Linked DNA regions of Homo sapiens: all the other regions are reported to be linked to region 2. Evidence: microRNA targets listed by miRTarBase, many of them from high-throughput screens and not tested one by one. Region 2 holds a microRNA gene; each other region holds the end of a gene's coding sequence.

The links. The annotated mature microRNA hsa-miR-3155a reads CCAGGCUCUGCAGUGGGAACU and lies in region 2 at 4,776-4,796, opposite strand. An mRNA with a match to its seed (bases 2 to 7 or 8) in the 3' UTR can be bound and repressed. Matches are read on the target gene's strand: a 7mer-m8 pairs with bases 2 to 8, a 7mer-A1 pairs with bases 2 to 7 and ends in A, and an 8mer does both.
Region 1: miRTarBase lists SS18L1 as a target of hsa-miR-3155a. Seed matches in the 3' UTR shown: 7mer-A1 at 4,650-4,656.
Region 3: miRTarBase lists MGAT5 as a target of hsa-miR-3155a. Seed matches in the 3' UTR shown: 8mer at 6,383-6,390, 7mer-m8 at 6,275-6,281, 7mer-m8 at 4,498-4,504 and 7mer-m8 at 4,258-4,264.
Region 4: the mRNA of EFHC1 is a reported target of hsa-miR-3155a. Seed matches in the 3' UTR shown: 7mer-m8 at 5,392-5,398 and 7mer-m8 at 4,874-4,880.

The regions. Positions count from the first base shown.
Region 1 is chr20:62,178,239-62,185,355 of GRCh38, reverse strand. SS18L1 (SS18L1 subunit of BAF chromatin remodeling complex) reads right to left here. Exons shown (of 11, transcript NM_198935.3): 11 at 2,842-6,174. The coding sequence ends at 6,148. MTG2 (mitochondrial ribosome associated GTPase 2) reads right to left here and starts at 2,328. Exons shown (of 7, transcript NM_015666.4): 1 at 2,299-2,328. RefSeq lists silencers at 2,110-2,279, 2,286-2,470, 2,510-2,699.
Region 2 is chr10:6,149,926-6,157,042 of GRCh38, reverse strand. MIR3155A (microRNA 3155a) reads right to left here and starts at 4,847; the gene lies at 4,766-4,847. It overlaps MIR3155B (microRNA 3155b), which reads left to right and starts at 4,781; the gene lies at 4,781-4,836. It also overlaps a transcript of PFKFB3 not described here. RefSeq lists an enhancer at 5,428-5,477.
Region 3 is chr2:134,448,221-134,455,337 of GRCh38, reverse strand. It overlaps MGAT5 (alpha-1,6-mannosylglycoprotein 6-beta-N-acetylglucosaminyltransferase), which reads right to left. Exons shown (of 16, transcript NM_002410.5): 16 at 717-6,689. The coding sequence ends at 6,491. Among named protein-coding and RNA genes, the nearest start is that of MGAT5, 200 kb to the right of the region's middle.
Region 4 is chr6:52,491,454-52,498,570 of GRCh38, reverse strand. EFHC1 (EF-hand domain containing 1) reads right to left here. Exons shown (of 11, transcript NM_018100.4): 11 at 1,373-6,301. The coding sequence ends at 6,230. TRAM2 (translocation associated membrane protein 2) reads left to right here. Exons shown (of 11, transcript NM_012288.4): 11 at 1-1,163. Among named protein-coding and RNA genes, the nearest start is that of EFHC1, 75 kb to the right of the region's middle. RefSeq lists a silencer at 556-757.

The DNA.
Region 1 (7,117 bases), not on the chromosome of region 2:
ACTGCAACCTCTGCCTCCCGGGTTCAAGGGATTCTCCTGCCTCAACCTCCCGAGTAGCTGGGATTACAGCTGCATGCCACCACGCCCAGCTAATTTTTGTATTTTTAGTAGAGACAGGGTTTCACCATGTTGGCCAGGCTGGTCTTGAACTCCTGATCTCGTGATCCGCCCACCTCAGCCTCCCAAATTGCTGGGATTACAAGCATCAGCCACCACGCCCTGGCCATTTTTTTTCTTTTTTATTTGAGGCAGAGTTTCACTCTTGTAGCCCAGGTTGGAGAGCAATGGTGGGATCTTGGCTCACTGTAACCTCCGCCTCATGGGTTCAAGTGATCCACTCGCCTCAGCCTCCCGAGTACCTGGGATTACATGCACCCACCACCACACCCAGCTCATTTTTGTATTTTTAATAGAGACGGGGTTTCACCGTGTTGGCCAGGCTGGTCTTGAACTCCCGACTTCAGGAAATCCACCTGCCTCGGCCCCCCAAAGTGCTGGGATTACAGGCGCGAGCCACCACACCCAACCAATATATCCACTTTTAAATGTATTCCTAACGATAATACCCTGCGAGGGGTAATACTGCATGCCGAGCTATCTTCCATTTGCTTTTCCAGACCAGCTTTCCACCCTGCCCTGTGCTGTGTGTCAGGAGCCTGAGCTTGCCCCATAGGAAAACCTACTGGGACCTGGCCCTCTACCAGAGACTGGAGGCAGGAGCAGGAGGCCGGGACATGGACCTCCCTGCCCACTCAGACTGAGGCTCACACCTCCAGTCCAAGAAGCCCTCCCCAGTGACTCTTCTCCCTGTCCCGATCACTGCTGCCTTCCCTGATCCTTTGGAGTCCAGGAGTAGAAACTCCACTGCCACCAGTTCCAGGCTAAAGGACCAACTGTCATTAACCTGCACTCTGCCTTTGCAAACGGTCCCTTTATAAACCCTCCTCAAATCCTCCTGTGAGCATGAAACCTGATTTTTTTTTTTTGGGTATGTTTTTGAGACAGAGTCTCGCTCTGTTGCCTAGGCTGGAGCAGAGTGGTGCGGTCTCGGCTCACTGCAACCTCCACCTCCCAGGTTCAAGCGATTCTCCTGCCTCAGCCTCCCCAGTAGCTGGGATTACAGGCGCCTGCCACCACGCCCGGCTACTTTTTTGTATTTTTAGTAGAGATGGGGTTTCACCATGTTGGCCAGGCTGGTCTTTAACTCCTGACCTCGTGATCTGCCCGCCTTGGCCTCCCAAAGTTCTGGGATTACAGGCGTGAGCCACCGCGCCCAGCGGAAACCTGATTCTTGACTTTACATTTTTTATGCCCATCTAAAGCAGTGGAGGCTGAGACTCACAGAGGTTCAGTCACTTGCCCAAAGTCACATAGTATCCTCTGGCCTCCCTGGCATGCTGCTGACACCTGCATTTTACGGCAGGAATCTTCTCACTGAGGTTCGCCTACACAGACTTCCCAAGGGACTAAGGCCAGGATAATTTCAAAGGAATCCATTTTCTGCCCAAGTTTCGCTACGTTCTCTCTGCTAAAACAGAACTGCCTGAGGACGAACCTGCGTTTAAAACAATTTGAATTCTCCTTTCCCGTCCCCCTTTTATAATGGGTCCTCCCCTTTACAAAAGAAAGGTATTTCTCTAGTGACACTGCCCAACAACCCCTCTAATTCCCACCTACAGGTCTGTGTGAACGCCGTTCCTCGGTATCCACAGCTACGAGAACGTAAATGGGAATAGAACGGGTAACCCGCTCTCACTGGGCAGAAGCCAGCCACGGACAGTGAATTATCTGGAAATGCGTCTCCCTGAGGCGCGTTTACAATACAAAACTTTATTGTTGTTTTATCATCCAAATGTGTATATATTTATGTTGTTTTGTGCAACTGTATACTGCCAATAATCACTTTAAAATGTTTAATACTTAGAGCGCTGGATCAAGGCAAATTCCTAACAACTTGACTCGGAACTCACACACGGCACCCATCCCGTGACAGAGCACCACCGGGGTGGCTGACAAGACTTCTGACCCCAAAACGCGGTTCTGCGGAGAGAGTGGGGCAGGACCGGGGAGCAAGGCGCCGCTCCCCACCGCCCGAGCGCTCGCTACTCCAGGGCCGCAGCGCTCGGTCCCGCCGGGGTTCGCAGCCCGGCAGCCCTCCAGGCCTCTCAGCTCCTAGGCCGGGGCCTCTCCCGCTCCCAGCGCCCCGGTACCCCGCGGCCCAAGCCGAGGCCCCTCCTTGCGCCCGGGCCGCGACCACCCCCCAGGCCCACGCTCCCCGCTCCCCGCTCCCGCACTCACCGGCTCGGGAAAGCACGTCACTTCCGGAGCGTCGCAAGCGGCCGACCACTTCCGGGGCCTTTTGGCTCCGGAAGCCCAAGGCTTGCCCAGTGCGCAGGTGCAGAAAACACGCCGACGGACCGAGAGGCGACCTTGTCCCTGGTAGCGGAAGCAGGAGCAACGGCAGGAGGGATGCGGAGCGCTCAGCTGCAGCCGCGCTTCTCGCCGGCGCCCTCGCTGCCCGAGCACAAGGACAGCCGCCCCGCCCGTTCCACCCGGTGCCCAAGGTCCCCCAGCTTCTCTGACCCCTCCGGCGTTTGCGGAACCTCCCGGGTCTGACGAGGACACCGCCGTTGCCCGAGGAGGCTACGGGGCAACGCAGAGCAGGCAGTGGGGACCGCAGGGCAGCCCCGGGGCGCCGTCCCCACCGCCCTTACCCTGGCTTCGCCTTGCCGCCGCGGGGAATCCGGTGCGGACGCACGCGAACTCTGCCCGGGAGCCGAGGTGACGATCTACCTGGTCTCGGTAATAAGTATTTGCAAAACACATCACACCAAAATCCCGTTAACTTCATGAAAACTCACTTTATAGGATGATTTTTGAAGAACCAGTTTATTAAGAGATTACACCAAAAGCATAAACAATTTATACGTCAAACTCCGACTGAAAAAAAAATAACCGATAAGGATGTTTTTTAAATGTACTGTACTCACAAATAACAAGACAAATTTGACCTGTTCAATAAATAGAAATGAAGTGGCTAAAAATGTTTAAATGGAAATGGAAAACAGTCGTCTTCTTTGTACAGTTTTGAAGGGGTGCCCCCTATTCACGCCTACACGTAGAAAAACCCTGACAAAATCAGAGGTTCACTTAACACTCCAACCATATGAGCGTATTAAGGTTTCTTTTCAGATCTTAGGAGATCTTGTCCACCTTAATCCCATTCACAGATCTTAGGAGATCTTGTCCACCTTAATCCCATCATAAAGACTGTTGGCATGAGTTCTGATGTACTGTTTTAATATGCTGAGTACTGTTGATTCAACAACAAACCTTAATGGGTGATGAGCTTTTGCATACCAATATGAATTTGTCAGCACTTCTGAAAACTGGCCATCATTTTTCAAATTCACAATTTGCTGGATGTCAGGGAACAATAGGAAGAAGAATGAGCGTCAATTTTCATGTCTTCCTTTGCTTCTTCACTGGCCTTCCATAGAAGTAGTCAGAAAAAAACAAAGCACCATCAACCACACTTCACAAACAATTCATGTTGGCCTAAGCTTTGCTCAACATTCATATGACAGAAGATAGAATAATGAAAAGGAACTGCTGGCATCACTTTCCCCATAATATTACATAAAAATGGACAGCACATTAAATAAACATTCTGTTATTAATCATTAAATATATTAACACCAAAAATCATGTATAAATTAGGAAATAAATGTACAAACTATTTTGCAAAGTGCTTTTTAAAATATATACACAACATTCAAGATATTCTTAATGTAAGACATTTCAGATTGAAGTTTTGGGGTAAGTGTCCTTTTCTTTCAGAAAGTATTATTAATACAGCACTTAAAAAAACACACAAACACACAAAAAAGGCATATTCCCAGATTGGCAAGGAATAAAAATAAACTATCTTCACAGTTATCTAAAATGTTTAACATTTTCAGTGGGAAATTTTAGTCCCCGATTGAGTTTGCAAATTAGGTCTATGAAAATTGACAGGAAAAGAACACAATCAAGGGAGATGACTCCCTAACTGAAATTGCTAACGCGTTTGTCAATTAGCAATTAAGAACTCTCATTTCGGTGATCGAATATGAACACATACGTTTATTTTTGAGCCCTTACCAGTGTTAAGGGTTTTAGAAACCCTTAGTGCCTACAAAATAAACACTTCTCTCCCCATTTGTGCGTGACATCCGTCTCCTAGGAGAGGGGAGAATGTCCTAGAACAGGACTGGTATTCAACACAGGCAAGTCCTTTAATCTGTGCCTCAGTTCTTCATCTCTAAAATGGGAACTGTTACCTGCCTCCAGATTTCCTCATAGGGGCTGTCAGAATTAATTCAAGCAAAACACATAAGTGACTTATAAATTCTAAAGCACCCGACTCTGGATAAAGAATTAATTTTAACTTATTTATTTATTTATTTATTTATTTTTTTGAGACGGAATTTCACTCTTGTTGCCTAGGCTCGGGTGCAATGGTGCGATCTTGCCCCACCACAACCTCTGTCTCCTGGGTTCAAGCCATTCTCCTGCCTCAGGTTCCCGAGTAGCTGGGATTACAGGTATGCACCACCATACCTGGCTAATTTTGTATTTTTAGTAGGGACGGGGTTTCTCCATGTTGGTCAGGCTGGTCTCGAACTCCCGACCTCAGGTGATCCGCCCGCTTCGGCCTCCCAAAGTGCTGGGATTACAGGCGTGAACCACCACGCCAAGAATTACTTTTAACTTTTAAAACAAAACATCAATTAAAGAGAAATATCGTTATTACTAGGCCTCATATATCAAGCATTGGATATCTCTTGTATTTTCTTGGTAGTTCTTGGAAATCTGTCAGCATTTATCCAAAGATTTTTTTAAAAGGATTCATAGCAAATATGAATATTATTATTCCAACTAAAGGTTGATCAAATGTCCATGCTACTTGTTAATTGAAATGTGGGATTTTTTTCCTTTGACCATACTTTTGCAAGTGTGCTGTCTTTAATGTTCACACAGAATTTAAATGGGATTTAATGTCTTAGAAATGTAAAAATTACTCAAGTTTCTCTATATAAAACCTTTACTTTTCATTAGAAAGAACACAGTAATGTAACTGGATGTGACTTTCAGACATCCCTAAAAGAAAAGAAATGCTTGCTTGGAGATCTGAGCAAGTAGGTCCTGGAAGAAATAATATAAAATAAACAACTTGCCAACTGTTGGGAAGATTTGGTTTGAATATTTAAAATTACCTATCAACTTAGAATTGGGCTTATTAAATATTCCAATCCCAGAAATGACCATCAGCTAAACAAGGGTCAAAGCCAGAGTAATCTCTGAGGGCCCACTTCCCAGAGAGCTGCCCCTTTCCTTCAGCAATACCGCTGGCCCTGGGTTAGGCAATTTGTCCACGGCCCTTAGGGATTCATATTTATTTGGAATACAGTCACTGATCCCTGTTTACTTTTTAATACAAAAACATGTACCTTTTTGGATAAACGGAATTGGCGAGAGACAGGCAATGGGCAAGCTCTGGAAGTGGCCATCTGTGGCCTCTCCCGTGGGAGATGTTTATCCTTTTCGTTACGTAACAGAAACTGACCCAACGCACAGAAGATGCCCTCCCACCCACCCCATCGAGGCACAGGAAGAGGCTGCCCTCCAGGGGCTGCATGTGTGTCCAGCTGTGGCGTAGCCAGTTAAAGAAAAGTTGACAACCCACACTACAACACTGCATGAGGAGGAAAATGAGACCTAACGTCTGTTGACGGGAACAGGTGGACTGTGGTGTCCTCGAGATCTGTCCTGTCCCTGGGCACAGAATGCTCTGATGACAAAATGACCCCCAAAGCTAGCTAGAAACATTGAGAAGGGGGCGGGGGACAAAAAAAGGATACCTCTCCGTGTACCGACATACAATACTATACACAGCACCAAAAGTATCACACCACCAAGCGCTGTCTCACGCCAGTGGTGTGCGCTCGGCGTCATACCCAGCATGAAATGAGCACGCTTCACATGCAGACGTGGCACTGGGCGAACAGGTAACCAACATGTCACAATTCACCAGAGCTGCCGCCAGCCCATCCGGCCCCTGGATGAACACGCTACCACAAGGGCTCCAGCCAGAATGTGTGTCCCTTACTGCTGGTAATTTCCATACTGGCCCTAAAAGAGATCAAGACACAGATTACACCCCTATAGTAATGAGTGAAAGGAAGACAGACGTCCACCCCAGCCCGGACAGGGGGTAGGAGGGACAACAGCAAGCAAACAACCTCTGCTCACATCTCTGCGGGGCAGCGAACGACTTTCCAGAAGCCACTGGCCAAGCCTGGGGCTAACAACGTAGACAGGGCCAAAGGTTCATTTGTTCAGTCACACACTGGCATCGCTGCGGCCGGGCCTGTGCCAGGCCTGGCATCAGAGCCTTATGCTGGGCCTGCTATGCAGGAAGGCTCTCCTCCAAGCTGGCCCCACTGGGAGCCAATGCAAACACCATCTGCCCCCGAGCCTGCTACAGTAAGAAAATGGGAGCGGGGACGACCAGGGTGATGGGTTTCAATCTATAAAAAAAAATCTAAAGACCCAGGCTGGGCAACATGGCCAGACTCCATCTCTACAAAAATCCAAATATTAGCTGGGTGTGGTGGCGTGTGCCAATAGTCCCAGATACTTGGAGGGTGAGGTGGGAGGATCGCTTGAGCCCAGGAGGTCAAGGCTGCAGTGAGCCGTGATTGCACCACTGCACTCTAGTCTGGGTGAGACCCTGTTTCAAAAACAAATCTGAATTTGGGAGGCCGAGGCAGGAGGACTGCTTGAGCCCAGGAGTTTGAGACCAGCCTGGGCAGTACAGCAAGACCCCATCTCTACAAAAAAAGAGAAAAAATTAGCCTCGGCCAGGCACAGTGGCTCACGCCTGCAATCCCAGCACTTTGGGAGGCCGAGGTGGGTGGATCATTTGAGGTCAGGAGTTCAAGACCAGCCTGGCCAACATGGTGAAACCCCATCTCTACTAAAAATACAAAAAAAAAAATTAGCCAGGTGGTAGTGGCACGTGCCTGTAATCCCAGCTACTTGGGAGGCTGAGGCAGGAGAATCACTGGGCCTG
Region 2 (7,117 bases):
TCGGCTCACTGCAACCTCTACTTCTTAGGATCAAGCGATTCTCCTGCCTCAGCCTCCCAAGTAGCTGGGATGACAGGTGCCTGCCACCACGCCCAGCTAATTTTTGTATTTTTAGTAGAGAAGAGGGTTTGCCATGTTGCCCAGGCTGGCCTTGAACTCCTGTCCTCAGGTGATCCACCTGCCTCAGCCTCCCAAAGTGCTGGGATTACAGGCGTGAGTCACCACGCCCAGCCCAGATACTTTAAAAAGAGAATTTGGGCCAGGCACAGTGGCTCACAACTCTAATCCCAGCACTTTGGGAGGCCAAGGTGGGCGGATCACGAGGTCAGGGATTCGAGACCAGCCTGGCCAACATGGCGAAACCCCATCTCTACTAAAAATACAAAAATTAGCCGGGCATGGTGGTGGTGGGAGGCTGAGGCAGGAGAATCACTTAAAATCTGGGAGGCAGAGGTTGCAGTGAGCCGAGATTGTGCCACTGCACATCAGCCTGGGCCGCAGAGCGAGACTCCATCTCAAAAAAGATAAATAAAAAGTAATTAATTAATTAATTAATTTAATTTAAAGTGAATTTGCTCTTCTTTGGAGGCTGGACGTGATGACACATGCCTATAATCCCAGCACTTTGGGAGGCCAAGGTGGGAGGATCATTTGAGCCCACGAGTTGGACACCAGCCTGGGCAACACAAGGAGACTTTGTCTCCACAAAAAGTTTGAAAAAAAAAGCAGACTGTGGTGGCGCACACCTGCGGTCCCAGCTACTCAGGATGCTGAAGCAAGAGGATTGCTTGAGCCTGGGAGGTGGAGGTTGCAGTGAGCCATGATCGTGCCACTGCACTCCAGCCTGGGAGACAGATCACAACCCTGCCTCTAAAAATACACACACACACACACACACACACACACACACACATATATATGTACATATATATAATATCTCTTCTTTGGGAGCTAAACAATGGGTAACACACAGACACACAGGATGGAATAATAGACATTGGAGACTCCAAAAGTTGGGAGGATGGCAGCGGGGGTGAGGGTTGAAAAACTGCCTATTGGGTAGGATGTTCGCTATGTGCATGTAGAACATATCTCCTAAACATAAAAACATTTTAAGAAAGAAAAATATCTTCCAAAGTTTCAAGCCAGTAGCCCAGGGCCATAAAGCCTACTTTCTTATTCTTTCTTTCCATGTTCAAACACGAATGAGGTTTTTAAATCTGTTTTTCTAAAATGAGGCCATCTAACTTTCAACAAGCCTGTGGCACGAGGGTTAGCTGGAGGTAGGGGTGACCTGACTGTCGAGGTTGAAACCGGGGAAATATGGACAAACCAGGACAAGCCAGTATCCTGATTTGGAAGTGAACCCGGTCAGCAGGTGCCTGGGTGGGGTCTGTCCAGGAAGTCTTCCTGGAGTGGGGGTCCATGCTTCCCCCTTACAGTGGAGCCCTTGACATTTATGGAAACGGAGGAAGGACAGACATTTGGTTGGTAATTGTGTAGTATTTACACGGAAACCCTGGGAAAGTGAAAAAACTCGGCCAGGTGCGGTGGCTCACGCCTGTAATCCCAGCACTTTGGGAGGCTGAGACGGGCGGATCACGAGGTCAGGAGATCGAGACCATCCTGGCTAACATGGTGAAACCCCGTCTCTATGAAAAATACAAAAAAAATTAGCCGGGCGTGGTGGTGGGCGCCTGTGGTCTCAGCTACTCGGGAGGCTGAGGCAGGAGAATGGCATGAACCCGGGAGGCGGAGCTTGCAGTGAGCCGAGATCGCGCCACTGCCCTCCAGCCTGGGCGACAGAGCGGGACTCCGTCTCAAAAAAAAAAAAAAAGAAAAAAACTCGTAAGTGCTTTTCTCCCAGCTTGGAAGAGAGCATGCTCAGTGCCCGGAGTAAACCCCTCAGAACCTTTCGGAATTCTTTGCCAGTGGCAGTAAGCATCAGCCCCCATTGTCCAAGTCATTTGCTTCTTGAAATGGCTCTGTCTGATGACTGACCTGGGGCACAGTGGACTTTTCTGGAAGGCTGCTTACTGGGTCCCATCCTTTTGAACCACAGACAGAAACAGAGCTGCTCATGGAGGTCACCATGACCTCCTACGGGCCACTCACAGCCTCTACCAAGGACAGGGCCTAGAGGAGGTGCAGCTGCTGTGGCAGTGCGGGCTCCCCGCAGCTCACTACAACCCAGGCCTCGACCGCCTCGGCCACCTGGCTCCCAGCGTCTCCCCAGATCAGACAGAAGGCAGCTGGGGGAGCTACCCATGATTCACTCTCTCTCACCCCACAGCAAATCCATCAAATCCCGCCGCCTCTGCCTCCTAAATATATTCAGAATCCAGCCACCCCCAACACCACCCTGATCGCAGCCACCTGCAGCAGGCCCAGAGACTCCCACCTGGTCTCCTGCCTCCCCCGCCACCCCACAGTCTGCTCTCAGGATAGTAGCCACCCGTGGCGGAGACGTTTTATGGTGTCACGTTAATTCAGCCCACCAGGCGCGGTGGCTCGCGCCTATGATCCCAGCACTTTGGAAGGCCGAGGCGGGCAAATCACTTGAACTCAGGAGTTCAAGACCAGCCTGACCAACGTGGTGAAATTCCGTCTCTACTAAAAATACAAAAAAATTAGCTGGACGCGGTAGCATGCACCTGTAATCCCAGCTGCCCTGGAGGCTGAGGCAGGAGGATCGCTTGAACTCGAGAGGCAGAGGTTGCAGTGAGCCGAGAACGCGCCACTGCACTCCAGCCTGGCCAACAGAGTGGGACCCTGCCTCAAAAAAAAAAAAAAATTAATTCAGCCCACACCTCCACCAAAACCCTCCCAGGCCTTCCTGTCTCCAGCTGAGAGGCCAAACAAGGCCCTACCATGGGAGATGAGGACGTGCTGAGCCGCCACTCCCTTCCTAAGCCTGTGTCCACCTGGCTTCCACCCTCTCACCCTGCAGAAGCGGTGCTGGCCCGCAGGTTCCTCCTGCACTCAGCCGCTCTGGCCACAGGACCTTTGCCTCGCACTTCCCTATTTGGACATGCTCCTGAGCTAATGGTACTGTCTGCTGCCTCACTCCCCTCAGGCTGTCTCACTCCCCTCAGTCTTGGTCCAAATGTCCCCTGGAGTGACCATCCTGTGTGCAACCACAATCCTCCCTCCCGGTCCCTGACTCCCTCTCCCCTCTCTTTTTTTTTTTAGATGGAGTCTCGCTCTGTCTCCCAGGCTGGCGTGCAGTGGCGCGATCTCAGCTCACTGCAACCTCACCTCCCAGGTTCAAGCAATTCTCCTGCCTCAGCCTCCTGAGTAGCTGGGATTACAGGCACCTGCCTCCACACCCAGCTAATTTTTGTATTTTCAGTAGAGACAGGGGTTTCACCATGTTGTACAGGCTGGTCTCGAACTCCTGACCCCAACTGATCCGCCTGCCTCGGCCTCCCAAAATGCTGGGATTAGAGGTGTGAGCCACCTCGCCCAGCCCCTCCCCCTCCTCTTTCCTGAGTTATTTTCTTCTTGGCATTCACATCCATTGACACATGCAGCGTTCACCTGCTCACCAACCCAGGGAGGTCACCATGACCTCCTACCAGCCACTCAAAGCATCTACCAAGGACCAAGCCACACAGGCTTACCCCATTCACATGTAAGCTCCATGGCCGAGGTTTGTCTGTTTTGTTCACTGCCGCAGCCTCTGCACTTACATCCGCCCCTGGCCTACTGGGCACTGCTGAAAGGACCGAAGAGCTTATGGAAGTGACTTCAGTTGCATCATAAATGAGGGTAGGCACCCGCAGGACAGGGCAGCCCATCGGCCTTTCAATTACATTTCTTGCTTTTCTCTGTTCTTATTTCTTTCTTTCTTTCTTTCTTTCTTTTTTCTGAGACAGAGTCTCGCTGTGTCTCCCAGGCTGGAGTGCAGTGGCATGATCTTGGCTCAATGCCTTCCAGTTCAAGCAATTCTCCTGCCTTAGCCTCCCGAGTAGCTGGGATTACAGACACCCACCACCATGCACAGCTAATTTTTTTGTATTTTTAGTAGAGATGGGGTTTCACCATGTTGATCAAGCTGGTCTCGAACTTCTGAGCTCAGGTGATCTGCCCACCTCAGCCTCCCAAAGTGCTGGGATTACAGGCGTGAGCCACCGTGCCCAGCCTCTTCTTCCTTTTTTTAAAGACAAGGTCTCTTTCTGTTGCCCGGGCTGGAGTGCAGCGGTACGATCAAGGCTCACTGCAGCCTCAACTTCCCAGGCTCAGGCAATCCTCCCACCTCAGCCTCCCAAGTAGCTGGCACTACAGGCACATGCCTCCACACCTAGCTAATTTTTTAATTTTTTATTTGTAGGGACAGGATCTCACTATGTTGCCCAGGCTGGTCTCACTCTCCTGGGCTCAAGCAATCCTCCCACCTCAGCCTCCCAAGTAGCTGGGGCTGCAGGTGTGTGCCACTGCACCTGGCATACATTTCTCGCTTTTCTACTGAATTTCCTCAGCTACCAGATCCGCAGCCCTCCTCTATTCATGGGTTCGGAATGTTCCTCGTGCAAACGTCCCAGAGAGATTTAGCCCTTGCAGGTGGCTAGTTATCGTGATGCCTTCCACCCTCCTACCAGACGCTTCCTCCCCTGCTGCCTGGCTTGGGGAGCCTCCATGGAGGCTCAGAGGCTCCACAGCAGTGTGGACGGGTAAAGCCTCCAGCAAGGCTTCTGCCTCACTTGGACCACCTAGAACTTGCCGCAGGACCTGAATCACACTGGAGACCGGCTGCAGGAACTGTTCCAGGCATCAGTTCCCACTGCAGAGCCTGGGAAGGGAGCTGTCCGGCTCCCCAGGCTCTGCAGTGGGAGGTGATGCCCGGAACAGGCATCTCAAAAGTGTGGGTCACCACCCATTAGTGGCCTTGAAATCAATTTACTGGAATAAGACCAGAATCTTTCTTAATGAAATGGAACAGACTAGAAAACATCAGCATGTACAGTATTGTCTGAGGTGAAGTATTGTTTCAGGACATTTTTTGTCTAGGCATCAAGGCAGAAACTATCAAATCAGAATTTCTGGGGCATCAGGTTTTTTTTTTTTTTAGCTCCCCAGTTAATTCTAATGTGAAGCCAGGAACAGGAGCTGCAGGAGGGCGGTTCTGTCCTTCCGAGAAACAAGGCGTCCCCACCACGGCTGTGAGCCAGTGCCTGCCGCCCGACAGCCACAGCACTGTGGCACTGAGGACCAGCTTTCCCTGAAGTCCGCCTGCATCAAACAGGTCTACCCCATGCCTAGGCAAGACCTTCCTCTTTCTCACTTCCTTTTGAAAGTCCACACTTCTCAGGGAGCGGGGAGGGTACCCTCCCGACTTCCCGTTTGCCCCTGCCTGCCTGATTGGATCTTTCTCCACTGCTGTGGCTGGACAAGCCTCTGGGACGACTTCAGCAGCCTCAGGAGAGGACTTCCAGAATCTGATCGCCAGGGGTCAGTATCTCAAGCAGACAGTCACGACAGCAGACCAACTCCACCCTAAGAAAGCACAGTTGTCAGTCACCCCTCAAACAGAGGTAGCACCCCAGTGTCCTCACCAATGCAAGGGGCCACAGCCTCTGGGAAATCTGCTTCTTGCTTCTCTGGCCGAGGACTGGGGCATACAGGACCTCACTTTCTGACAAGTGAGTGTTGAAGCCCAGGCCAGGGGGAAGTGTGTTTTTGAACTGTCATGTCAGAGCACCTTCCGGAGCTACAGCTGGAAAGGCTGCTTGCGGAAGTGCCAGGACGACCAAACCCCGCTGCTCTTCAGACACCTTGTGGCTGCCCCAACCAGAACCTTGGATGCTCCTGGGGCCACGCCCCCTAGCTCAGACCCGCACACAAGATACCACCAAGACTCATACACACTGCCAGTGGGGAGCTACGGTAAGTGGGATGGTGTTCCACAGACTGGGGCTCCCTCCCTGTGTCCGTCTCCCTGCTGTCCTGGTCCACCGTCTCAACCGCCCAGCTGGAAATCTTGGAACTCTTCCCCTGCCGTCATGAATGATAGGCAATTTTTGCTTTTTGTTGTTGTTGTTCTGAGACTGAGTTTGGCTCTGTCGCCCAGGCCAGGGTGCAGTGGCAGGATCTTGGCTCACTGCAATCTCCGCCCCCCCAGGTTCAAGCGGTTCTCCTGCCTCAGCCTCCGGAATAGCTGAAATTACAGGTGCCCGCCACCATACCTGGCTAATTGTTCATACTTTTAGTAGAGACGGGGTTTCACCATGTTGGTCAGGCTGGTCTCAAACTCCTGACGTCAAGTGATCCACTCGCCTCGGCCTCCCGAAGAGCTGGGATTACAGGCGTGAGCCACCACGCACAGCCTGGGTATTGTCTTTATTTTAAATTACGCATGGGGAAATGCCATCATCTTTCAGCATTTAGGGTTTATAAGGATTTATTATTATTGTTATTTTTGAGACAGTCTCGCTCTGTCGCCCCGGCTGGAGTGCAGTGGCCACGATTTCAGCTCACCACAACCTCCGCCTCCTAGGTTCAAGTGATTCTCGTGCCTCAGTCTCCTGAGTAGCTGGGATTACAGGCGCCCACCACCACGCCCAGTTAATTTTTGTATTTTTAGTAGAGACAGGGTTTCACCATGTTGGTCAGGCTGGTCTCGAACGCCTGGTCTGAAGTAATCCTCTGACCTTACTCAGCCGTCCAACGTGCTGGGTTACAGGCATGAGCCACCGTGCCTGGCCTATAAGGATCTTAATGTGGCTCTGCAACTACTCATTCCAAAAGAAAATGACAGATTAACCAAGTAGAAGAATTTATGAAACACTTGCTACCACCAGGTCCAATATAAGCATGAGGTATAGACCGTAACTCAAATAGCTCTCCAAGTTACCATGCAGAAAGCATTCTGAGAACAAATGAGTGTTCCGGTCTGGTTATGGGACAAGATATGCCTGCAAGAGGTGCTATGTGCATAGAATCAATGGAAAAGGTGACAGAAAAGGCATGAACTTAAAAGGCGTGAAGAGACATCCAAACCCCAAGTTTATTGCAGCGCTATTCACAACGGCCAAGACATGGAATCAACCTAGGTGTCCAACAACAGATGAATGGATACAGAAAATGTACATATACAACATGGAATACTACTCAGCCA
Region 3 (7,117 bases), not on the chromosome of region 2:
GTTTCTCTTCTGCTGGTTTTCTCGTTGTGTCTAATATACATCATGGAAGCTCAGGGAGGGGAAGTGACACTGGTAGCGTTGCCCAAATGTAGGCACTCGGCTTTCCCTTGTGTTCTAACATGCTCTGTGAACTGTGTGGGGTGTCCATTTTGGGCCGTAGCCAGGAGGCCCGCCAGCTTCAGAGAGGCCATGCAGATGAGGGCCAGTGTCATCTGCAGACAAACTGTTGGGTGGGGCATGGACTAACCTTCCCTGTCTCCAGGGCATTTGCCTAACCAGCTGCTCATGGCTCACTGCTTCCTGGCTCAAAAGCTGCTCTTGAAAGGGAGAAATCTATTCTAGGTCCAATGGTCGCTGGTGCTCAGCCCCTTATAGAGCTATTTTTATTAGCTCATTCTTAAAGATTTTTCTCAAAATCTAGCAGTTCACTTTCTAATTGAATTTCCTTCTAGGGGAAGGCAGCACAAGGAGAGTGCGCTAACATGAGTAGTGGTGGATGTGATATAAGGGAAGGAATACACAGTAGTAAAACCTTCCCCTCTCCACTCCTTAAGTATACCTTCCTGTCTTCCTACCAGCCGTTTCAACAGTGTGCTGCAAACCGTGAAATACAGCTGGGGGAAGCTGTGTGCTGGGGACGCGCCTAGACAGCAGCTCAGCTTTGTTCTGGAGGTGACCCTGCATGCACCCGCCCCCCCAAAAATCACTTCCACCTGTCACACAAGAAAAGTTTATTGAAAAATAAAGTTCTCCCTAGTTTTCTCTACAACAGTGGAAAACAAAGCAGTGCTCTCTATGCCAGGACAGTACATTTGGACGGCGACACCTTGTTTGCAGAATCCTGCATTACTTAACCCCCGAAGTGAATCACACAAAATGGCTGTAACCAGGATCTGTTTGAAGACACAGATGCAAACGGCCATTAGCTTAAAGACGTCAAGGTTGTGACAGCAACTACAGTGGAAGGGACGTCACCATCTCCTTTGGCATCAACTATTATGCTATTAATACTTGGGTAGGACAATGAGCAAAATGCTTCCCAAGTTCGCTCCCTCTCAGCTTTGGCAGATGTGAAGCTGCTCTGAGGTTCCTGACACGCTGTCCTGAGAGGCGTGTAGACCTCCAGCACCACAGATCCTTTGAGCACCACCCCGTCCCCGCCATCCTCCATCAACAGTGGCCCTGCCCACCACATAAGCACAGGGTTCTCCAGCCGTGGGGTCAGGGTGGCATTGAGGGAGTGTCTTAAGGCTCCACAAAATCTGGGCTACAGAGATGCTTTGCAGATGGGAAATTCCAGTCACTGCATCCACAGGACGAGACTGCTGATTTGGCGGAACAGAATCCAAAGGAATTTGACGAAGTCACCAAACTCCAGCAAATTCCACACCTGCAATCTATCCAGAGTTGTGCCAAGACAGGGCAGGAGATAAGGAGATAGATAAAACTTTGAATCCATCAGGGAAGTAAGAGGCTAAATCCTCTCCCCCAAAACAAAAAGCAAACCGATATTTAGGTGATTTGGGAAAACATTCAGTCATGAGCAGCCTCTAGGAGCTGTTCTGAGAGGCCAAAATCCCTGCCCCATTGCCCCCAGCTGGCAGGGTGGGGTTGGTTTTCTCCAGGAGGCGGCCAGGGAATAACCTTTAATTTGATGGAAACATGCAGAACTAACCAGTCTGGGAGTCTGATCCCTGAGGACAGGAGGGGCCACCCCAGCCTGTAGGGGCCGGCAAAGGGACCTGCCTGGGGAATGTGTAAGTTCAATTGGTCATTCCTTCTCCCTTAACGCAGAAAAGCCTCTATTATTGCATTCAAAGGAATACTGTTAACTTTGACTCAAGGGGTGCAGTCTGCCAGAGAACCCATTTTAATTTCTAGCTCAAAAATGTTCCTTGAGGAAAACCCTTGGAATGTTCTGAAAGACGTCAGTGGGGTAAGGTCCAGTATGTGGCTAGCCAAAGGTCACCTTTACCTTTTCCAGCTGGAGTTCATAAATTCTTGCAGCCTTGTTTCCTTGGGGGCTGAAGTCTGGCATATTTTCAAACCAGTGCATTCAAGAATACAGTAAGATCCCAACCAGCAGGGTAGGCCGAGAACTGGGCTACTCTAAACCAGTAATTCCTACAACATTCAATCAACTTGGAATCATGTTTTCATGTAGGTATTATTTTTGAATCAACAGGAAGGGAATGAGCTCAGCTCTATTTCTCAAGTTTTACGAAACACTAATAACAATATTTAACATTTACTAGGGCTTACTATGTGCCAAGCACTGTGCTAAACACTGAATCCTCACAAAACCCTAAGTGCTAAGAAAGCTAGGGTAATTTTTTTCTGCATTCAAGACTCTACAGCTAATTTGGTCTTTTGCTATAAAAACTTGGTCTCCCACTTTTTGTTGAAGCGAACAAGAATCACAGGAACTCACCCTCAGCTTCACGAAACTCCCAGCTTCCTAAATGAGCATGAATCTATTTATGTCCATCCGTCTACTCACATGAAGATGCTCTGCAGCTCCACAGGGATGGATGGGATTAGAATAAAGCCAATATGGAAATTAAAATACTTTTAAATAAATAAAATAATCCAGGCTTGGGATAGTAACACATACAACAGAGCCTGTCGTTAACAAAATAGACTTTTCTTTTTAAATCAAGAATTTTTGGCCAGAGGTGAGGGTGGCAATGTCTAATATACACAAGCTAGGTAAACCACCTTGGAGAAATGGGGTGGCCACCGTGGTCTGCCCTAAAAGGCACACACCTACCTACAGACATACAGTTTCAGTCCAACACATCATACTGATGTCAACCCTGTCAGTGAGCTGCACTGGGCTCCACTCCCAAAGGGGAAGCTCATTATTCACTTTTATTAAATCTTGCATTCACTAAAGAAACAAAAAAGGGGTGCACGTTCTTTCCCTTTCATGATGCTAAAGTATTTCTTCTCCAAGCAGGGCCCTGAACTCCTTGGATGCACCCATTCACATGATTCTGCCTCAGCCACACCTCAGCAAGTGCGTGGGTGGCAGGGAACACAGGCTGGTTGACACGTTGGCAACCAGCAGTCCCAAGGTAGACCCAAAGGTATGGCAGAATCCAGCCCTTTCTTGAGGTTCTCAAGGCTTCACACCCTCCTCTGTGGGTGGAAGTGCACATGCATACACGCTATGGCCTGGCGGGGGGGTTATAGGGAGCGTCTGGTGTCCAGCTTCAACAGCTACAGTGGCTCAAGAACATGTCCTGTCTCTTAGCTGGAGGAGTCTGCTATTGCCCTTCAACAGCATCCGGATTCCAAAAACCCCAAAGAAAAACGAAAAGGCACATCAAGGAAACAAATATCACTAAAGAAACTGACTAATATCTCCAAACGCACAGCAAACACACAAAAAAGCAAACTGTAATGAGCAGTGACACAAACCCAGTCCAAACAAAAATGAAAAGCATCTCCATTTATACATGTGCAAATCAAACTGCATACACAAAATAAATGCGGTGTTTACCAGCATTCAAAGAAGTCTTTTTACTCCTCAAAGTATCTACCTTTCAATGGAAAGCTTTCTCTTTTAGTAAATTAGATGAATGTTTTCCCTCAAGTTTTTTAAGAGCTTAGGATCACAATGGGGAAAATAATCCAAAAAAACAGGCAAGATATTATAGCGGGGAAAAACATTAATCATAACTTAGGATTTCTCTCCCCATGGAACTGTTATCAGCTATAAATCGGTTTAGGATTCTATCAAGATCAGCAATGGCAAAACCTCCGCAGGCTTCCAGCCCACACAGGGGCACCTTCCTCTCCTCTTCCATGCAGGGCAGTTGGAAGCCCCCTCCCCAGTTTCCTCTCCAGGATCACTGACTAGACCTGGGCCAAGTCTGAGGAGGCCTGGGAGCCAGTACACATTCAGGGGTCACTGACTCTTCAGATAATGCCCTAAACAACTGGAGTGTGGGCTTGTTTGCTCCAAGAGCAGCTGCCCTGTCAGTGGAACTCCGGCGCACTTCCACTCAATACTGGACTGGGGGGGATGAAAGAGGGATTTTTAAATGGCAGAAAAGTGTTCTTCTGGGCTGTCTGGCCCGGGCAGGGCGGGTTGTGACTTGGAAAAGAAGGGGAAGGTAGGGAGGCCTTGAACTTAGGGACAGCCAGCAAATGATCCTTGCAGCTTTTGGAACACAAGGCAGGGCTAAGGTTACCTTTCAGCTTCCTTGCTTAAGTAGCAGTGGCTAAGTGGGTTAAACTTTGCTCGGCCTGCAGGCTCCCCCTGTTGGTCAGATACTTGCATTGACATCCTCAGTGTTCAATGCTCCTGGAAGAGCCCAGGAGAGGGCGGCACTGGCCCAGGGATTGCAGGTCAGGGAACTCTAGCAAATTCCCACACCCTAGGGTACAGCCAAGAGGCCCATTCACAAGGAAAAAGCTCTTCCTTACAGCAAGGATGCCAGTCATCTGCCCTCCTACTGCAGGAAACTGCCCTTGCTTAAAAGAAATGCACAGGCTCATACACACACACACACACACACACACACACACACACACACACACACACACTCACTCACCAAGGTTTCCTTTGGACTTCTGCCCTTCTTCCTAGGCCCAAGCAGAGGCTATTCTCAGCCAGGTCTGGAGGCGCCCCTGTGATGATGCTCAGGGCAGAGGCCTCCCCATGGTACTCTACCTGGCAGATGTGCTTGGGGGCCACCTAAGGAGTGGAGGAGGCCCCGGGTGCCCCCCACCCTCCTCTTAGACTGGAGATACAATTGAGACGCACTGAGCAGGGATCTCAGTGGGCCTAAGAAAAAAGGCTGGCTGCACATTTGTGTAGCAATTGAGAAAGAAGCAGAATGTAACTTCCCAGACTTAAAGGCCCCACACTAACTCTAGTCCCCATGAAGCGGAATTCTTCCTTTCCCTCACATTCTGAAAGCTACCAGCCATTACGCCTTGCCCATCAGTTCTGCCCAGCGGAGGCTCCACTGGGCCGCCCTCTGTTAGCAGGAAGGGTGCTTGGAAGCCCCGGCACAGAGCACATCATTGAGCGACTGAGGCGCCCAGCAGAGGCCAAGTGGAGGACGCCAACCGCTCACATTAGGCAGAAGGGGTCTCACTTGCATCAGCATGGAGATGTCAGGGGCTTTTCAGAAACTTACAAACTTGTACAGAGCATGGCAGCAATGATTCAGTGGGGTGGGAACTTATACAAAGGCAGAGCATGGGGGGGTCCAGGGTTTGGAAGGTGGGGTCCAGTGTGTCTGACCAGGCCAACCTGATGACTGATTACTCAACAAGTCAGAGTGATCCTGCCTGAAGGAAAAGCCAGCACCAGATTCCCACCTTTGCGAGCTACACCCTCAGGTGAGTAGCCAGGACAGGGCACTGCATTCATCCTGAGCTGCCCCCACTCCCCCAGCAGACATCAAGAGCCCCCTTCCCTGGACTTTGGTGCCATCAGAGGGGACACAACACAAGCCCACCTGTCAGGAGCCCAGCTCCGGTCGCGCCACAAATTCTTAAGGACCGACTTCACTCCTGTCCAAATCTTGGCTCAAAGATAATCCTCTCCAAGTCCATGAACAGCGTGAGTCTTTCATCTCTACTTTCCTCCTCATAGCGGGGCTGGAGGGAGGGTGAGTTTACCAGAAACTCCAAAATCCCTCAATCCTGTATTTCCTTCCCAAAGGGATTCTAAAAGAAATTACGGCCAAGGTATGTGTCTGGGCATGGGGACATGGAGGAAAGGGGCCTCATCTCCTTTTTCGTCCCTGGCTGGGCTCTCTGGACAACACAGGCACGTCCCCCTGACTGAGGCAGCCCATGCTCTAGGTGCCATCTATGACGATGCCCTGGGGAGTTTGGCTGTGCTTCCAAAGCAAAAGTTTCTTTTGTTCTGCTGCCATCTGTTTTGAGCTGCCAGGTCCCCATGGCTGTCCCTGAGCAGGCCACCAGCCCCACGGCACACGGTCTCTCTCCTGCACCCTGCCCAAAGCAGACAGAACAACAGTATAGTGAAGGTGGATGATTAACAGTGGAAATAAAAGAAGCCTGTGATCAATCCCTCCTCTCCCTCCCGCGGTCCCCTCCCTCCCACCCGAATAAATAAGTTAATGGGTTTAGGAATATTCCCATTCAGAGTTCTTTCCCATCAGCTCAATTCCTCCTGTTTTGTTTTAAAGGACTCTTGAGACTTTCTTTTGCCCTGGAGCAGCTGCAGTGACAGTCTTCCCACAGTTGCTCCTTGAGAAACAGAAATGATGTTGTGCCAGGGACAAGCCAGGCTCCTGGCCTGACATACGCTCTTGTTTTGTTTTGGTGAAGACTCCACTGGGTTGCTCGGAGTGCAGCAAGGGCAATGCCAATTCAGAACCTTCTACGAAAAAGTTCAGGCTCTTGCCAGAGTCCCTGCATGACTTCTGTCCCTGGCCCTGCCTGACGGGGCTGGGGCCACTGTCTTCCCCAGCAGCATGGTGCAGGGCTGAGCAGGTAGCTGCTATAGGCAGTCTTTGCAGAGAGCCACCTGGCCCTTGATGAAGTCCCGGCAGGGGCAGACCCTCTGGTGCCTGGGGTGGGCGCCTGCACAGCTGAAGAGCAGGAGGTCACCTTGAAACACACAGTGCTTATTCTTAGGGTCAAAGGAGGGCACCAGGATGTCCTTGGCCAGCTCTGAGCTTTGGCAGGTCACCTTGTACCTGAAGAGGAAGAGAAAGGCACAAGTGTTGGTGATGAAGGGACAGAGCCTTTCCTCGTCACTGGCCCTGTGAGCCCCCATCTTGAGGCATGGGGGGATGTTCAGTTGTCTTGTCCTACTTTAGAAATGAAATGGTGCCCACCCTCTTCGTCTGCAATCCTCCACCTCTAGGCATCTAGACTCAGGAAGGCATGTGTGCACCAGGGAGTGTGTGCAGGGGTGTGTGTTTGAGGCTGCCTAGTGAAGCTTTGTCTGCAATGGAGAAAAACTGGAAACAACCCAAATACTCACCAAGCAGGGAATGGCCAAATAAATCATGGCCCTTCTGTGCTTTTAGAGTTCTCTGCAGCTGTTGAAAAAGAATGAGGGAGAAGAGAGGAGCAGGAGAGTCATCCTGGGGAAAGGTGAGTCCCAGAATGGGAAGCACAG
Region 4 (7,117 bases), not on the chromosome of region 2:
CTTCGAAAACTCTCCTCTGGCCCCACATAGCAAACTCCTTCTCCGTTATTTTCCCCACCCCCAGATTTTTTTTAAAAGGCCCACTTGCCGTAACCTCTTTTGGTCTATTTTGCTTCCCATTCAGCCCAAAGTTTATATGATAAAGGTGTTTACTTTTACTTCCCAGTCTCCAAGTGCTAACACATAAACACATACATGTCTGACTGTTGCAGAACTGTTCGAGCTCCTAATTCAGTGTTACCTTGTTTTAGTCGCAGCAACCCTCTCCCCTACCCCTTGCCCGCCCACGTTTTTCTCACTCTTCCGGGTTGTGCAATAACTCTCCCAGCCAGTGGTCCTTTCCACAGCCTTTCTGTCCCTTAAAACACCTGCAACTGGGGGAGAAATGGGACCCATGGGAGGGGGAGTCGTCATCCCTTACACAAGAAATAGCCACTTTCCTTTTGTTGTCATTCTTGTGATCCTGGGTGGGTTTCTGTGGCACTCTTTTAGAACATGTAGCATCATCTTAGAGGTCTATTTTTAAAAAATGTGTTGAAGAGGAAAAAACCATTCTCACGATGGGGCTTAAGTCATTGTCCAGGAATAAGATTGGCGTGGTGCCCATGACATCACCGTCACTCTGCCTAAAAGCACTCTAGAGCTACTTGTTCACGTGGAGAGGAAGGATATTTTGCGAAGCAACAGCCGCAGGTGGAGAGCCCTGTTCACCTGATAGGGTCTAGCTGTGACAGTAAATATAATACCGCTGTTTCCTTGGGTACAGATTTGAGTGTTCATGTGATGAGACTGTAAACCTCATTTTTCGGTTCCTCTGTTTAAAAAAACATCTGAAGGATGAACTAAGGCTGCTGGTGCCCTGAGCAACTGATAATGCAAATGTGGACAAAGTGTCTGTTTTCTACTCTAGCCTGTTCATATGGACCAAATTTCAACAAGGAACTCAAGGAAAATTTGTACCTGCCGTATTTATGCTTTCATGTAAAAAAGGGTTGGGGGGAGGGGTGTCTTTTTGCTTTTGGTGAACTTTTTTTCAAAATCATTTTTCCACTGTTTCTGTCTGGTTTTAAAACAAATTACAGTTTTGTATGGATTTTTTAAATGTACATTTTGGAACAAATGATCAAATATTTTCTGAAATAACAATAAAAGGCAGAAAATTATCAGAATTGTCTCATAATTATTTCCTTGACGTGCTTTTATACAGTGATGCTTTTAACGTGGATGTTTACGTTTGCTTAAAGGAGTTTGCAATGAATTTTAGCCCTCATGTCTATTATTTTTCACTATATTAGTCATTTCTTATATATTTTGACCCGTATTTGTCCATTGTGATATGAATTAGGGAATTAAGGATGGAGAGTCAGTTATGTCAAGTGCTGGATAGCAATAAGCATCATTTTTATTTGACTCTTTAATAGTAAAGTGGAAAAGAGGTTTTCTTAACATGGGGTTTGTGGGTAGGAAGCTCCAGAAACAAGCACATCATCCTTGATGCCTACTATACTATGATGTTATTTAGCTTGGAGGAAATGGGGTTTCGTTTGTGTAAAGGCCAACAAATATGTTGGTGCTGACTAGAAGACATCCAAGTATTAGTAATAGTGGGGATTGCTGGTGTCACTTACATGGCTGCTGTTGGCTGTAGCTGCTTGCTGTGTTTACCAGAACCATCTTTCTTTGGAAAAAGATCTCAAAAGATGAGTGCAGTTACAGGTGGCAGTTAGTCAAGGACACCCATGGGGTGTGAGAAAGAGGAAATGTTTGCTTGAGGTGAAGGTGAGTGGTTCTGATGCATGGCAAGCTTCATTGTAGAGTTGGGTCCTGCTCTGCCATGAGAAGCTAGGTGAACTCAAGCAGTTAACCCTTCCGAGTCTTTTTGTGCATCTGTGTCAAAAGGGTTTCATGTTTTGTGGGGAGTCATGGTGAGAGATTTAGAGATACTGAATGCTAAGTTCATGGTACATATAAAGCACTCATATTGGCTTTTTAAAATGAACTTATGTGCCAGCAGGATACTCAGGAGTCACTTAACCAAGTGGATTCTCTGGACAACATTTAGAGACGTCTTCTCTACCTATGTGTCCCAAATACCCTCAAAGCCTATAGATATGGATTTGATACACCTTAATTGGATGGTATTTTCAAGGCCCCCTGATGGTGCAGACAAGGTACAGGCCCAGGTTTCTGAGTAGTGGCTAACTCACAGCCCATCTTTACCCGCAAGGCAGATTTTTATTAGTCCCAAAGCCGTAAGCACTATAAGCAGTCTTAGTCAAATGCTTCAGTTAGACCTGATAGCTTCAGCTACCAGTGCTAATCTTAATAATTCTCATTCTCTCTTTGTGTGTGTGTGTGTGTGGGTGTGTGTGTGTATTAGAATCTTTCAACTCCCTGGTGGCCAGTTTGAAGTGATGATCATTTCTGCTTCCTACAATATTGCTTGCTACAGGGTAATGCTCAGCTCCCTTCCACCACCTGAACCTGACACTCCAGATGCATGCCAGCTATGACTGTAGCATAAGGTAATTAGTGACATCTAATGGCTGCACTGCCATTCAGGATTTTAGTAGAAAAAGTGATTTGCTCTGACGTTTGTGGCTCCTATACTTGCTGCTTTGTATAAACAGGTGAGCAGCGAGTGTTTGGACACCACAGAAATGGCCTGCTGGCTTTGGTCTTTCATGAAATCTCTTTTATACCTTGTGTTGGTGCTGTCAGATCTCAGCTTCTCAGTCTTAAGTAAACTTAAAAGGAGATGCAAGGCAAGAAGTGGACAGCAAACTTAAGGAGTGTATGTGGACAGTGCCAACTTTATTGAAGACAGTTCCCTCTGAGACTACAGGCCTAGCTACTCAGAAGGCTGAGGCAGGAGGATTGCATGAGCCCAGGAGTTTGAGGCTGCAGTGAGCTATGGTCACACCACCGCATTCCAGTCTGGCAACAGAGTAAGACCCTGTCTCTAAAAAACAAACACAAAAACAAAACAAAACAGCCAAAAGCAGGCTAGAGGATGCTAAATGAGACTTTCCTAAATCTCCATTTTGGCTGAGACCCAAAGCTGAGGACAAAAATTGGCAAATATATCCATATGTTGCAGATTTGCTGCCGATCCATGAATGATTTGTTAAGGAGTAGCCCAAAGCTCCTCTACCACAGGAGGCAAGAGTGATGGAGAAAATATCAGAAAGTGCAAGCTTCTTGAAAGGGGCTGGAGTGCCTTGGGTCTGCAAGCTAAGTGAGGGTATACTTTAAAAGACTCAGGGTTTGACATGTGTCTGTCCCCTGGAGTTTGGAGAGCATAAGATTTGGGGTACCTGGTTCTCCCCTGAAACAGTCTAAAGGAAAGGGATTGAGCTGCCTAATTACACAGCCAAGAGAGCCATCTGGGTGAGAACATGGCGAGAGTGCACACCCTGGAAGGTGTGTCAGCCTGAAAGGGCCTCCTGGGAAGATCAGAAGGAGCCTTGGAGACCATACCATTAGAGCCGGGGTGATCAGGTACAGACTGGGTCCCGTCCATCTGAGAGTGGTGCACTGGGCAGTTTCCGGTTGGAAAGAGTTCTAAGAACTCACCAAAACGGGGCTCTGAGCAAAGGACATGGAATCAACCTAGGTGCCAATCAATGGTGGATTAGATTTTTTAAATGAAGTATATCTACACCATGGAATACTACGCAGCCATAAAAAATGAAATCATGTATTCTGCAGCAACATGGATGCAGCTGGAGGCCATTATCCTAAAGTGAATTGATGCAGGAATAGGAAACCAAATATTGCATGTTCTTACTTCTAAGTGGGAGCTAAACATTGAATACACATAGACATAATGATGGGAACAATAGACACTGGGGACTACCAGAGTGGGAAGGGAAGGAGGGGGTATGTGTGGAAAAACTACTTACTGGGCACTATGCTCACTACCTGGGTGCAATATACTCATGTAACAAACCTGCACATGTACCCCCTGAATCCAAAAAGAGAGAAAAGGTGCTCTGGGAGAAAGAGTCAGCCTTTCGGCACATGTCACTCAGACCTGGCCCCACATTACGACATTACTAGCCACAGAAATAAGACTTTGCCCTTTTTCTCTGGTTTCTACCCGCTTAACCTTTCCCAGAGCCTACATGGGCTAGAAACAGCAGCATGGCTGAATAGGAACAAAGGGAGCAGAAGACAGAAAGAAGGGAGTAAGAAGAAACCACTATCATCACCCCAGTATACACACACTCTTTACCACAGGCTTCTAAGCCTGGGGGAAGGACTGAGCTGGGCCAAGTAGGATAGAGCTTGGTAATTTTTAAGCTGAAAAAACTTCTAAAATACAGATAGTCCCCAACTTTCAATGGTCCAACTTATTTGCCTACTTTACAATGGGCTTATCAGGGTTATTAAATGTGTTTTCAACTTGTGATATTTTTTACTTACGTGAGTTTATTGAGACATAGCCCCATAAGTAGAGGAGCATCTGTACTTGAAAGAGATACTGTTTTAAATAGTTATGAGCGACTGAGGGTAAAACAAAACAAAACATGGGTTATTCCCAAGATAATAACCTGGAACAGAAAAGGAATCAACATAATACATTCACAGCCCTTTCAATAAGCTGGTTACAAGTGGCTGAGCTCGTTAGGGAAGGAAACACCAAGGGAAGTTCCCTAGAAGTTCTGAGAGGGCAAAGCAGTCTGAATTCTGTGTAACTCTATCCTCATTCATACCACATTTTGGGTGGCTTCGGGGAATTTGAGATAGCATGTTTAAAGATGAACTTAGTGGCTGACTTCAACCAAAGAGAAGCCCTGTTTGTAAAAAGCCAGTCAGAGCTCACCAGAGAATAGTAACTGCAACTAGTCTTTCCTTCCTCTCTCAAGGCCAGGCTCTCTAAAAGCAGCATTTTTCTAACCTTTTTTTTTTTGAGATGGAGTCTTGCTCTGTCACCCAGGCTGGATGGAGTGCAGTGGCGTGGTCTTGGCTCACTGCAACCTCTGCCTCCAGGGTTCAAGTGATTCTCCCATTTAAGCCTCCCGAGTGGCTGGGACTACAGGCACACGCCACCACACCTGGCTAATTTTTCTATTTTTAGTAGAGATGTGTGCACATATATGTATATACATAATATATATACACATATACATACTATATGTATACATATAAGCGTGTGTGTGTATGAATGTGTACATATAAAATATATATATATATATATATGTAGAGAGAGAGAAAGAGAGAGTTATAAGAAATTGCTCACACAATTATGAAGGCTTACAAGTCCCAAGATCTGCAGGGTAAATTGGCAAGCTGGAGACCCAGGAGAGCTAAAGGTATAATTCCAGTCTGAATCCAAAGGCCTATGACTTAGGAGAGCTGATGGTTTAGGTCCAGTCTGAAGGTCAGCAGGCTCCAGACCAACAGCTGATGTTTCCATTTGTGTCTGAAGGCAAGAAAAGGCTGATGTTCCAATTTGAAGCCAGTCAGGCAGGAGGAATTCTCTTACCTGGGGAAAGGTCAGCCTTTTTATTCTACTCATGTCTTCAAATGATTGGAGGAGGCCCACCCACATTAGGGAGGACTATCTGTTTTACTTAGTCTTCTGATTCAAATGTTTATCTCATCGAAAAATACCTTCAGAGAAACCCCCAGAATAATGAAATATCTGAGGCTGGGCACAGTGGCTCATGCCTATAATCCCAGCACTTTTGGAGGCTGAGGTGGGAGAATTTCTGGAGCTCATGAGTTTGAGACAAGTTCAGGCAACCTAGCAAGACCTTGTCTCTACAAAATAATTTTAAAAATTAGCTGGGCATGGTGGCTTGAGCCTGTTGTCCCAGCTACTGGGGAGGTTGAAGTGGGAGGATCACTTGAGCCCAGGAGTCTGAGGCTTCATAGAACTAGGATAGTGCCACCACACTCCAGCCTGTATGACAGAGTGAGATCCCATCTCTAAAAAAATTTATTTTTTTAAAAAGAAAGAAAGGAAATATTTGGGCCCCCTGTGGCCAAGTCAATTTGACACACAAAATTAGACATTGCTATACCCCTATCACCCTAAATAAGGCACCAATCTTAGATCCTATTAGATCCAATTTAGTTTCGACTTCAGTAGGAGTGAAAGAAGAACCAAAACAGAAATAAAACTTCAGGAACCCTGTAAATGCCTCTATGAAGAGTGTAAGGTGTATTTCAAAGCATAGTTCCAGTATCAAAAATTGTCTTGCATTTTCTCATCAGCAGGTCAGTTTGAGAAAGCACGAACAAAGTTATAGTAGTTAATTTTGCCTTCTCCATGAGAGCACATCCTGATTAACTGCAGAGAGAGCAAAGAGAATAGGTGAGACAGATCTGCAGGGCTTCCGTCAGCTCAACTGCAGAGTGCGCTTATGCATAATGATCCCGAGCCTTTGTAAATCAGTTCAGAATTTTTGTATCCTCAAGTTGATTCTGAAATGATCCTGTGAACCTGGCAGGTAGGACAGACATTATCCCCATCTTACACTTAATGAAACCAAAGCTGGATGGAGTAAATGACCTTCCCTGTTGAAGGCCGAAAGAATGAGCGTCATGATCAACTCAGTATACCACTGGAGGCTCTATGAGTAAACAGTAAACTGTTTCTCATGAAAGCAGGATGTTGGCAAACTGACAAACTGCGTCTGCTGCCCAGAAGGAACGCTGAAGGCAGTCACGACCCAGGCACAAGTGTTTCTTGTGATTAGACACATCTGAAGCCTGTTAGCAATAATGTGAACCTGTGATCAATTAATCCCTGCTCTTTCTACCCAATAAATATGAAGGGCTGTAGCAGCTCGGGCGGTTGCCTTTGCTCACTAGAAGCAGGGAGCTCTCTTCTTTCCCTTCCTTTAAAATAGTTACTTTTGTTTTAAGTTTTCATTTCTGCTTTCATCTTCCTTCGTTAACTCTCGTAATGACGGTCTCAAGTAGTAACAGTAGTAATTGTCGTAGAGATGTCTCAAGTAACCGTGGCAGTCTGCCACATTTCCCAAGATTTCAGAACTAACATCCATATTTATAAAAGCACTTTTAGTTGTTTTTATATTCAAATAAAAGACTGTCCACTCAGCTCATGAGGAGTAAGACTTTTTAAATAGCAGGCTCTTGCTAC